Regions from separate parts of the Homo sapiens genome. Here region 2 is linked to region 1. The links come from fine-mapping of genetic effects on gene expression. Tissue or cell type: testis. Region 1 holds a variant in brackets; the other region holds the start of a gene. All regions are shown on one strand. Distances are from middle to middle.

The links. PIP is the estimated chance that this variant, and not a neighbour inherited with it, causes the effect.
Region 2: it holds the start of GCLC-AS1, and the variant in region 1 is fine-mapped to the expression of GCLC-AS1 in testis (GTEx, PIP above 0.99).

Annotation. Positions count from the first base shown.
Region 1 is chr6:53,502,093-53,504,592 of GRCh38, reverse strand. The region is part of intron 12 of GCLC (glutamate-cysteine ligase catalytic subunit); the gene reads left to right. The region is part of intron 3 of GCLC-AS1 (GCLC antisense RNA 1); the gene reads right to left. Among named protein-coding and RNA genes, the nearest start is that of GCLC, 42 kb to the left of the region's middle. The variant G/A (reference allele first, on the strand shown) is at 1,544.
Region 2 is chr6:53,429,947-53,432,702 of GRCh38, reverse strand. GCLC-AS1 (GCLC antisense RNA 1) reads right to left here and starts at 1,209. Exons shown (of 5, transcript NR_183318.1): 1 at 1,064-1,209.

The sequences.
Region 1 (2,500 bases):
AGACCAAAGGTCACCCACAGAACTCTGTGGGCCCACATTGCCCTCATGCCTACCTACTGGGGAGACCAAATCCATCTAAGAGAGATTCCATGTAAGCTACCAGTCTAAGCCTTTGCTTATAAATAAGAATAGATGCTTGGAAGGCAACAGAAAATTGAGAACAATTAACAGCCTTAAAGAGAAGGGCCTACTGGTCTTGCAAGGGCATACTCTGTAAAGTCAAACTTAGTTACTTCAAGGAAGTAAGCTGGGCCCAGCGCAAATCTATAATCTCTGCTCCTCAGGAGGCTGAGGCAGGAGGATTGCTTGAATCCAGGAATTCTAGTGCAGCCCCGACAACATTGCCAGATCCCATCTCTTGAAAAAAAAAAGCAACTGGAAAGAATTACTATTTTTTAAAAAATACTTTTAAACCTTTTTTAGAGACAGGGTCTCACTATGTTGCTCAGGCTGGTCTCGAACTCCTGGGCTGAAATGATCGTCCTCCTGCTGCCTCAGCCTTCCAGGTAGCTGGAATTACAGACACAAACCACCATGCTCAGCTTTGGAAAGAGTTCTTAAAGGAATTCTAATTAGTGGCCTCAGACAAATTCTAGAGAGGTTCAGTCACATCCATAAAACAAGTATTATAGATTGTGCTTATTTAATGGTGAGTATTCTCACCAGTAGAGCAGATGTTGAATATCCAAGGTAGTGATTTAAAAGACCAAATGAAGATTAATCCCAGCAGGATGGTGAAGAAATGGAAATTATGGAAATCCTGAAGCATGGAAAGCTCTGGAAAATTCAATGTTTGTGTAATAATTTAGAAGAGGAGAATAGTTTATATAGGAAAGATATACAATAATCAAAGAAATAATAGAATTTTTCCTTAATAAGTCTTCCTTAAGGATGAGACAAATATTTAACTCAAATGTAGGCATTTATTAATCTCAAAGAGAAAATTAACTGTCCGGACAGGAGAAAAAATTAGGAGACATGAAAAGGGGGGAAAATCAACTGATATTACTTTTCATTTGCAACATTAAATGCTAGATGGAAAGAAGTTTTCAGAATCTCGAGAGGTAAAGAATTAACAACCACAGAATTATCTTCTCAGCCAAATTATTCTTTAAATTTCAGGTGATTCTAACAAAACTGAATGGATCAAGTTAGGGCTAAAAGTATGCCAGAAGTCTTATCTAGTGTCTTGGTTTGTTTGGGCTGCTGTAACAAAAATACCTTACAGTGGGTGGCTTATAAACAACAGGAATGTATTGCTCACAGTTCTGGAGGCTGGGAAGTTCACGATCAAGTCACCGGCAGTTTCGGTGTGTGGTGAGAGCTTTTGCTCTCTGGTTCATACATGGTGCCTTCTTGCTGTGTTCTTACATGGTGGAAGGAGCTAACTAGCTCTTCAGATGTCTCTTCGTAATACCAGTTATGAGGGTAGGGCCTTCATGACCTCCCAAAGGAGGTCCTCCCAATTGCCTCCCAAAGGCCCTACTTTCTAATACTGTCACAATGGGCATTAGGCGTCAGTGTATGAATTTAAGGGAACACA[G/A]ACATTCAGACCATAGCACCTTGTAAGGGGATATGGAAGGAGATGAATGGTAGATACTCATTAGTGCTTGACACTTAGAGAGTTATAATTTCAAAACTACCTCTTTAAGGAAAACTATTAATAGTATAGAAACAGGATTTATTACTTTTAAACTTGCTGGCGAAAGGGTGGCAAAATGAACCACAAATACATTTCAGTGCCACAAAATTGGGTGTGGGGCCAGGGGAGTGATGAAACAATAGCCCATAGAACATAAAGTGGTGAAAATAAAATGAAAACAAATTTGAATAGACTAAACTCTATCCTATTAAACAGCTGAAACAGATAATATAAAATAGCAACACAGTTTGCATAAGATGTACGTAGAACAAGGACAGATGCCGACAAGAGCTGCATAGTGACCTTTTGGAATGATAGCAGGAATGGCAAAGCAATATCAGGCAAAATGTGAGGTAGAAATTATTAAATGGGATAGAGAAAGCAGTTTTATATATTCTTCCAAGATGATGTGAAAGCTGTGGTCCTTTTTGTACCATGAAATGTAACATGAAAAGAGTTTAGTGTGATGGGTAATACATGGCTTTGATGTGAGAACTAAATGCATAAATCCCTGGTACTATTTACTAGGCTTTTAACCTGGACAAGTGACTTATTCTCAGTGCCTCAGTTTCCCACATGTATCCCAGAGGGGAATAAGTAGGCTGTTGTAAGCCCGTGTGGGGATTAATGGAGGTAAACCACTTAACAGAGTACCTTGCATGTTACTCAGTAACTGACAGGCCATATAATCAAAGGATGGGAAAGGCCATGGGGGAATTAAAGGCATGGTTAATAAGCTTGGTTGTATGCGTATATTACGTATCTCATACCACATCTTTTTTCAAATGCCATGAGTAAGATTTACAAAAATTAAAGAAAATCTTCACTTCTCAAAAGTAGACATAATACAGCATGCGT
Region 2 (2,756 bases), 72 kb after region 1:
AATGCCCTATTAACCTCTTGTTTGCTTCCCCTTTAGAGGCTCTTTTACTGTCCAATTGTGTATTTCATTTTTTCTTTTTCTTTTCTTTTTCCTTTTTTTTTTTTAAATGGGGCTTTGCTCTGTTGACTAGGGTGGAGCACAGTGGTGCGATCATGGTTCACAGTATCCTCGACCTCCCAGGCTCAAGCAGTCCTCCCACCTCAGCCTCCTGAGTAGCTGTGACCACAGACACAAGCCACCATGCCTGGCTAATTTATTAATGTTTTTTTGGTAGACGTGGGGTCTCACTATGTTACCCAAGCTGGTCTTGAACTCCTGGGCTCAAGAGATCCTCTCACCTCGGCTCCCCAAAGTGCTGGGAGCATAGGCATGAGCCACAGCGCCTGGCCTCAATTGTCTGTTTCTTTAGACCAGCAATGAGTTTTCCAAAGCTTTGTTTCCAAGGTAGATAGGCCTTTTCTTTGCCCACACAGAGGCAGCCGATCATTTCTAGAGAAAATAATGCAATTAGAACGGTTGGTTTATGCCATGATCTGAATGTTCGTGTCCCCCAACTTAAATTTGAATGCTGAGATCCTGACCCCCCGGGTGATAGAATTAAGAGATGGGGACTTTAGGGGGTGATTAGGTCGTAAGTGTGGAGCCCTCAAGAATGAGATTCATGCCCTTATGAAAGAGGCTCCCGCGAGTTCCCTTAACCCTCCTGCCAGGTGAAGACACAGGAAGCAGACAGCTGTCTATGAACAAGGAAGCAGGTTCTCACCAGACACCAAATCTGCTGACAGCTTGATCTTGCACTTCCAGCCTTCTGAACTGTGAGCAACAAATATTGATTGTTTACGCCATCAGTCTATGGTGTTTTGTTATAGCAGAAATGGACTTTGCTGCCTTGTATCCATCAACACCCTCTACTACAACAGGAAAATAGAAGTCATCTTTCTTTCCACCATGAAATTTAAACATATCTGCATACATGTTCATTGTCTTAGTCCATTTTGTGCTAGTATAATAGCACAGACCTATAAAGAACAGAACTTATAAAGAACAGAAATCTATTTCTTACCATTCTGAAGGCTGAGAAGTCCAAGATCAAGGCACCAGCATCTGGTGAGGGCTGCTCTTGGCTTCCACAATGGCATTTTGAACACTGTGTCATCCAAAGAAGAGAAACACTGTGTCCTCACATGGCAGAAGACAGAAGGGACAGAGGACCAAACTCCTTCATAAAGGGCTTTTATAACAACATTAATCCATTCATGAAGGTGGAGCCCTTATGACCTAAATACCCCAAAGGCCGCAACTCCCAACAGTGTTGCACTGGGATTAAGTGTCAGCATTCAAATATATTCTAAAACCCTCATTTATAAAGCCTTCTCTTTTACTTAACAAAGATAAAGGTGAAATCTTCCAGTCAATGGTGAGAAGACAGTTATTTTATAAATGATTTTGGGAAACCAGGTAGCCATCTAAAAATAAAACTAAAATTGTCTTAACCCCTCCCACTTGCACCAGGAAAATATACAATTGAATCAAAGATTTCAGAGTAAATAATGAAATTATAAATCAGTTCTAAGAAATCTCGAGAGAATTCTTCGAGAGTTGGAAAAACCTCTCTATGACACAAAACTCAAGAACCATAAACAAAAAGATTTATAAATTTGACAATACGAAAATCAACCATTTCTACAAGGCCGAAGCTACCATAAACAAATTTCAAAGACAAACAGCAAACTGGGAAAATATATATGCAAGATATATTGGAAGCAAAGGGCTACTTTTCCTTATATAAAGAAAGCATGTATAACGTGTTAAAAAAAATCAATAACTCAATTTTTTTAAAGGTACAACAATCCTCCCAATGACTCTTAACCAATAAAACATGTTTAATCTCACTCATAGCTAAAGAATGCAAATTAAAATAATACTGAGCTACCAATTTTCACTTGTGAAATTAGGAAAGGTCAAAAATTTGATAATCTTCTGTGCTGATGAGGTTGTGGGGAAAGAGGCATTTTCATATTGCTGATGGGAATGTAATAGGTACAACTTCTATGAAGAGGAATTTAGCATTATTTACCAAAATCACAACTACTCCTACCCTCTGATCCAGAAAATTCTACATCTAAAAATTTATCTTACAGATTACATGTACACACACTTCCAAAATGTATAAGGTTATTCGTTGCAGCTCAGAAATGAAAAATATTAGCAATAAACATGATCTCTCTCAATAAGAGATAAATCAACAATGGCACACCCCACAAAGAAGTAAGACCTCTGCTCCTTCTCCACACAGCCTGTAAATATCAGCTGTCCTCCACACTCAGTCCTAGACCTTCTTCCATTCCTACTCTTGGTGGTCTCATCCATTGCCAGGGCTTTAAATATCTTCACAGAAATTATCTCATTCCAGAAACCTTATAATAATCTTTTTTGTCTTCCTATCCCTCGTTCTCTTCACTAAATGCTATTAAACTACCTCAAAATTACATTTTAATAGTAAAACAGCTTTATTCATGTATAACTGAAATAAACTGTACATAATTGTAGTACATTATTTGATAAGCTTTGACACAAGTATACATTCAAAACTACCACCATAATCAAGATAATAAACATCTCCATCATCCCCGAAAGTTTCCTAATGCTCCTTTGTAATCCCTCTGGCCCACCTCTCCCTACTCCCCAAACTAGCCACTGATATGCTTTCCATCATGACAGCTTAGTGTGTATTTTCTAGAATTTTATATAAATAG